2 linked regions of the Homo sapiens genome follow. The protein of the gene in region 2 purifies or fractionates together with the protein of the main gene of each other region. This does not show direct contact. Each region holds a gene or a part of one and is shown on either strand. Other genes may lie near its edges.

Region 1 (3,651 bases), on a different chromosome or scaffold from region 2:
AAAAATTATTTGTGGAGGTGAGGTCTTCCTACGTTGCCCAGGCTGGTCTTGAACTCCTGAATGCAAGTGATGCGCTGGCCTCAGCTTCCCAGTGCTGGGACTATAGGTGTGACCCACTGTGCCTGGCTGATCTCAATTTGAAAATCACAGAGTCAAAAGGTATTTTTGGCTTAGGCGTCAAAGCAACTATACACTGGTCCTTGGTCTAATCTGGTCTGCTTCATAGTACTGGCTGAGTTGCTTAGATGCTTTGGACTGTTTCCTTTTTTGTGTATTCAGAGAATACATGCAGTTAGATTATCTCTGAAATCCTTCCTGCCTTGAAATTTTCCAACTCAGTGAATCCTATAACCACCTAGCACTTGTCTTATAGCACTTGTGTTGTGTTAGGGACAATATTATTAATGGTGTTTACATACACCAGTAAAAGACTAAGCTCATTCTGGATCGGGATTAGTTTTAATTATTTTTGTATCTTCCAGTCTTACTGTATGCCTGACACATATATTAAAAATCAAATAATATTAGCCTGGATTCATAAGGGGTATTTTTGCCCTCTCAATTAAAGAATAGCTAAGAACTAAACTCTGTAGTATTGAGTGTAAGTCCAGCAGAAGCTCAGAGGTAGGAAGGATCCGTTGGGGCTAGAGTAATTGGGAAGCTTTGATGATAAGAGCTTGATGAAGGAAGGCGTGTGAACACCTGGGCTGCATACCAGGAGCAAAGGCCCAGGGGCTGGTAAGTGAGTGCATTTTGGATTATGGGTGGAGTGCCTTGACTGACAGGCAGAAGAGTTTGGAACTGATTTGTTAGACAGTTCTTTTTTGTTGTTTGTTTTTCCTGGAAAGTTTTATTAGGCCAGCTCAAAAGCTTCCTGAACATCCTTTACCTTAATTCCCTTGGTAGCATTTCAGATTAAAAATACATCATCCAGTTTGCTTTATTTTTGTTTTTGGGTTTATCAGTTTTTCTATGTAATATTTTCCACAGTAAATCTTGGTGCCAATAATGGAACGAACACTGGACACAGGACTGGGGAAGACTGGATTTCAGCTTAGGAGAAGGTGAGCTGCTCAGGGTGGATCCAGAGAGCTTCAAGACTAGTGCCCGGCACATCTTAAGCACTCAGTGACAAGTGCAGCGTTGAAGGCTTTTTTCCCTTTACTGCTTGCTAACAGTGCCACTTTGCACAAGGCTGCCCCTTCGTTTCATTTGTAAGCATGGATGAATTTTTAAAGGCCTTTTCTCATTTTAAAGGTTTGTGATTTTGGAGGGCATATGATTTAACTTTCATTGTATTATAATTTTAGCAAAAGACAAAACGAGACAAAAGGCCATGTTTGGCTTTAGTTTAATTTTAATGAAAACCCCATGTGAATGATAATGATGTATGTCTCAGCAGGAATCAGAAGTCATGCCAGATAGCTCAAATGAAGAAAGGTGCAGAGGGGATTAGGGAATATACAAGGAGTGGTGAGGAGCAAAGGGAAGCTAACAGTAACCAGAAAGGACAGAAGGAGAAAGTAGGGCTGTCTGGAGGAGGATCCGACTGTTGCCAGAGAAGTAGTGCTGGGGGCTGGAAGAGTAACACCGAACTGCCTCAGTGTTGGAACTGGTCCACTTCTGAAATCCAAAGTGCAGGCCTCCCACTGTTTGCTTATAGTCCCTCAACTTTCTCAGTCTCACTCACCCCCACTGCATCTATCAGGCGCTTCTGTGATCTTCAGTCACTGTCATGCCAGTGTGCTCAGTTGTATCGTTGTTGTTCTGTAGCATCTGCCTGGCAGCTTCTCAGCCTTGGGCAGTCTCAACTCTCTGCCTCCTGTAATGCTTGACCTGAGTTGCTGGGGCCAGCTGGGGAAAATCACAGTATCCAGATCTGTGCCCCTATAAATCCATGGTCACCAGCTCAGCTGGGCCATCAAGGAATCTTCCAGAATTTTCCTCATCAGTACCCGCTTCTTATCTCTGCAGAATGTACTTTTCAGCATTTTCACGCTTTTCGAACCTTTCATCCTTTCACATCATTTACACACACTCTTAGCAAGCGGTCTTGCCACCTACATCATAAATGAAAGAGATGTAAGTGGAGAATCGCAGGGGCTTCCTGCCAAAAACTGTTCCTCCTCCCCAGTCACAGTGGAAGAGGTTGTATTTATGCTAAGACCAATCTCCTACCTGGGCTGTGGATCCCATCTACCCCGCCTTTGTGAGGACTTCACTCAGGTGTTCATGTCTTACTAAAGCCTTCCTTCTGTTGGCCTTTATACATGCTTAGAGACAGACAAGAATAAAGTAAAACAGAAAAAACTAGAATCCTCCCTTGATTTCACATTGCCCTTTTAAAATTCCTCTCTTTTTCACTTTCCTGCCACATTTCTTAAAATAGTTGTTTGTAGCCAACTTCTCACCCATCCCAGTGCTGTCTGGTTTCAGCTACGATCACTCTCCTGAAGGCCAAAGTCATTCTTGAGCTTCTGGTCACAAAATCTTGTTCCTGTCATTTCTTCAGGGTAATGCCTGGGACATAGCAAGTGTATAATAAACATTTATTTGACTGAATAAATCCAAGGATGTTTCCTTTTCACAGCCCTAGTTTTTCTGTTTTTCTGGGGTATAGGAGTCCAATACTGTCATCTTTTGAGGATCTGGGTGACTAGTCATTGTATCGCAAATCATCTTGACGGACTAGGTAAAGATACAAATAAATATTATTTGAGGATAAGTTCAGTGGCTCAGTGCCTGTAATCCCAGCACTTTGAGAGGCCGAGGTGGAAGGATAGCTTGAGCCCAGGAGTTTGAGACCAGCCTGGGCAACATAATGAGGCCCCTTTTCTACAAAAATTAGAAAAAAGTTAGCCGAGTGTGGTGGTACATGTCTGTGGTCCCAGTTACTCAGGAGGCTGAAGTGGGAGGATCACTTGAGCCTGGATCACCTGAGGCTGCAGTGAGCTATGATTGCACCACTGCACTCCAGCAGCCTGGGTGACTGAGTGAGACCCTGTCTCAAAAAAAAAAAAAAAAAAAAAAAGAATATTATTTGATAATGACTTCTTCAATCTTGTTCAGGTGATCTGTCTTTCTGGGAAAATAAAACCCTGACATCTTTTTTTCTGAAAAACTATACTTCCTAAAATACTAAGACTTACTGTTTTTATCTATGCATATAGATCTAATAAGAGTAGTAGGGCATTGGGTACTACTGGCAATAGATTTGTGAATAAATAATGCTGTGCTCTTGTATGAAACTCTTTTGTTTTCCTATTAAGTAGTGTATCTTCTTTGAAGTTTTTGTCTTCATTTATTTGTTGGGGGTGGATGGAGGGGGATGAATTTGCACTGGCCTGGTTCATTTTTGACATGTCATCAATGTCCAGTGGCATCGGTTGGAAGTCCAGTCACCTTTAGACCTGCAGCCTTTCCCTGTGCAACATAGTGACAGTCCTTGTCCTCTAGGAGGAGACATGGCATGCTAAGGCAGAGGGCTTTATGGTTCCTGGGGGAATAAAGCAGACCTCTAAGTAACTTTTCCAATTAAGATAGAATCCAGTGCTTGTTTTATGAGAACAGCTGAGTAATCCGGTATATATATAACAGATCTCTTTTATGGGGGCTCTGAGAGCTAAGTTGTCAGGCATTCCCTATATACTT
Region 2 (3,409 bases):
GCCTGAGCTAGAAGCTGCGGATGCCTTCGCCTTGCTGCACTGGGCACTGCATGTGTACCTGGGGTCAGTGCCTTTGGGGCAGCGGGACATGGGGGATCAGAGGCTGGGGGCTTGGTGGCTTGGTGTGACACCAGGCCACCTATCTCCAGGCAGGAAATGATGGGGAGCCTGGAGTTGGGGCCTGAGGCTGATGTGTCCCAGCTGGAGCCCCTTCTGACCTTGGAGAACATTGAGCAGCTGGAGGCAACATTTGTGGCCAACATCCAGGTGAGTAGTTGAGGCACAGGTCCAGAGAAGTCCTACTTATCTGCTGTGGGCCTTTATCTGCAGAGTGGAATGTCTACCCATCTCCAGCAGGGTCAGATCCCTGCTACATTCCTTTGCCCCTGGCCCCTCCCCCCAGGCAAGTGTGTCTCAGTGGCTGCAGAATGCACTGGATGGGGAGGTAGCTGAGTGGGGCCGGGAGCATGGGCCCAACACAGACCCGTCTGGCTCCTATTACTCACCAATGCCAGCCATTGTGCTGCAGGTAGGTGGGAAGTGGCCAGACAGGCAGGCAGCCTCCATGGGGCAGTGGGGAGGAGAGGAAGGAGGGAGGCTTTGCCGATGGCTGCTCATTTCTGCCTGCAGATCCTGGAAGAGAACATTCGTGTGGCCAGCCTGGTCAGTGAGTCACTGCAACAGCGAGTGCATGGCATGGCACTGTCAGAACTGGGCACATTCTTGAGGAGGTTTGCTGAGGCACTGACCCATTCCTGATCCCTATCCCTGCTCCCCAGGCAGCCCAAAGGGGCTCTGAGTGAATAAGACATGTCACAGGGAAAGGGCTCTTTCAAACAAGGACTTGGGTATCTTGGAGGTGGGACAGGAGTACCAGGGACTGGGGCTGTGGGGATGCCAGCATAGCAGCAAGTCCAGGAGCCACCTCTGCCCATTGCAGCTTCAGTGATGCTCTGATCCGATTCTCCCGAGACCACTTCAGGGGGAAATCAATGGCCCCTCATTACGTGCCCTACCTACTGGCCGCCCTCAACCACAAGTCAGCACTCAGGTACCAGAAGGCCCCCAGGGAACCCCACCTTCACTAACCCCCTATTGAGTACCTATTATGTATGGGCTCAGCCCACACTAGGACACTAGGGACTTTGGACTCACATCGCCCTGGGGTTCCAATTCTAGTTCTGCTAATTACTAGTTGTGTGACCTTGGATGAGTTACCTAATCTCTGTGAATCTCACTTTTCTCATTAGTATTATGGGGGTACTAATGGAATGTTCTGAGAATCACATGAGATAACATGTAAAGTGGCCACCATAGTGCCTGGCACATGGTGTCAATTGTTCATTCGTCCAGCAAATATTTCAAGGCCCTACTCTGTGCCAGTAATGTCTGGGGTTACAGCTGTGTGTATACACGCACACACACACACACTCCCTTCCTCTTGGGTGGTATGTTCTTTTTGGTGGGGGCAAGGAAAACAAGTGATGATTTTTTACTCCCTCCTCACTGGGATACTTCCCTTCCTTTACGAATGAGGAAACAGAAACCGAAAGAATGTTTTCCTCAAGGACGCACCGCGAATTTGAGGCAGGTCTCGCTGGGCTGTGTCCTTTGCAGCTCGCCAAGCGCCCGTCTCCCAGCCCTGGTCCATGCCTGGGACCAGAAGTGCAGAGAGCCGCTGTTCTCGCTCCCTCCCGTCAAACACTTGCCCCACAAGGTGGCGCCGGAGGGTCTGGACCACCGAGGGCCATGCGGGCCTTGGCCTTGGTCCTGAAGCCGTAGTTTTGCTTGGTCCAGCTCCTCAGTGTCTGTCCTGCAGCTGGACGGGGCGCCTTCAGGGGCCTTGGCTCCAGTGGAAGCTGCGCTGGACGAGTTGCAGAGGAGGATCTACCGCTTGGTGTTGGAGGCGCTGCAGGCGGAGCTCCAGGTGAGGCCTCCTTCAGGTCAGGATGGGAGCAGGTGGAGAGGTGGCGGTACAGCTACGTATGGGGGTCTCCGCGGCAATGCCAGATCTGGATCATTTCCCCAGCCCCTGTTCGCGGATCTGCCCTCGCGCCAATGGCTGTCGAGCCCTGAGCTCCTGCAAAGTGTGTGTGAACGGACGGGGCGCTTCTGCCGGGACTTCTGGCGCGTGCGGAACCCCACGGTTCAGGTGGGTTGGGGGAAAAGATTGGGGAAGGGGCGGCGCGGGTGAGAGGCGACCTGCACCCGCCTGATTGCCTCCCCGCAGCTGCTGCTGGCTGAGGCCGAGCGTGCCGTGGTGCTCCAGTACCTGAGCGCGCTGATGCAAGGCCGCCTGGTGTGCCGCGGAGCCGACGAGAGGACCCAGGCGGCCGAGCGCCTGCGGCACGATGCTGCCCAGCTTCAGCAGCTTTTCCTCAGTTTGGTGAGAGCTTCTTGGGCGGGCAGACGGGCGAGAGTCTCAGTGGCTGGGTGGGAGAGAGGGCTGGCGCGAGACCCTACCCCGACGTGCTCAGGGCCTGGAGGAGAACGCGCACTGCGCGCCGGTGCTGCTCGCCCTGAGGGAGCTGCTAAACCTCCGCGACCCCGCGCTGCTGGGCCTGGAGGTGGCTGGCCTGCGGCAACAATTTCCCGACGTGAGGTGCGGACTGGGGGCCAGAAGGGAAGAGAAGCCGGAGGGCGGGGAGGACGGGGCTGACGCGCCTCCTTGGTGCCCCTGCAGCGAGGACCACGTCTCCGCCCTCTTGGGCCTGCGCGGGGACTTGTCCCGGGAGCAGCACCTGGCCGCGCTCAGCTCCCTGCAGGCTGCGCTGCCGCCGTCGCCCCGCGCGAGCCGCCGCGTCCTCTTCAGCCTAGTGCCCGCGCCCGCGCTCGCGCCGGCCTCCTGCCTGCCCTCGGGGTCCTGCGCCCGAGCCCTGCTGCTCGCAGAATAAACCACGGCTGCCGGACGCCTGAGTCTGTGTGTGTTGGGGAAGGTGGGATGGAATAAAAGTGCCCACGAGGGTTGAGGGAATTCTTGCAGAGTGACACGCTTAAAGTATCCTGGCTCCCGTCCTGGTACACGGGCTGCGCCCCGCCTATGCAGGCATCTGCCCTCTGTGCAGACTGCGTTCCCGAGGCCGCGGGCTACGCCCCCACGTCTCCGCGCCCAGGCCGTGAGCAAGAGTCTCCGCCGCCCTGGCCGCCTGGAGCCCCTGAAGCCCAGCAACTCGCTGTGGCCTTGGGAAGGGGGCGGGCCCAGGACCACGAACACCGCCCCCTCAACCCTGCCTGGCTTCGCTCCCAGTGGCCTCGGGGGCGCGCCGCCGCGGAGACTGACGCGAAGCCCCACGCTTTCGTAAGAGCGTGCGCGCGCCCGAGGACGTACGTCATCGGCGACGGCTCCCGCCGGCTGGGCGTCCGGTGGCCGGTGTAGCAGAGCGGGAGCGGCGGGCGGCGAGCAGAGGAG

What was found.
Region 1: the proteins of EXOC3L1 (region 2) and EXOC2 purify together in Homo sapiens (affinity purification with mass spectrometry; one large-scale study listed by BioGRID and IntAct). This does not show direct contact.

Annotation. Positions count from the first base shown.
Region 1 is NC_000006.12:686,552-690,202, reverse strand, and holds part of EXOC2 (exocyst complex component 2), read left to right. Parts: intron 1-990; exon of another isoform or gene 991-1,064; intron 1,065-3,651. UniProt on the Homo sapiens protein: Component of the exocyst complex involved in the docking of exocytic vesicles with fusion sites on the plasma membrane.
Region 2 is NC_000016.10:67,183,879-67,187,287, reverse strand, and holds the end of EXOC3L1 (exocyst complex component 3-like protein), read left to right. Parts: coding exon 1-63; intron 64-149; coding exon 150-267; intron 268-403; coding exon 404-529; intron 530-630; coding exon 631-731; intron 732-940; coding exon 941-1,051; intron 1,052-1,797; coding exon 1,798-1,927; intron 1,928-2,029; coding exon 2,030-2,152; intron 2,153-2,230; coding exon 2,231-2,386; intron 2,387-2,477; coding exon 2,478-2,602; intron 2,603-2,683; coding exon 2,684-2,894; 3' UTR 2,895-2,909; downstream 2,910-3,409. UniProt on the Homo sapiens protein: As part of the exocyst, may play a role in regulated exocytosis of insulin granules.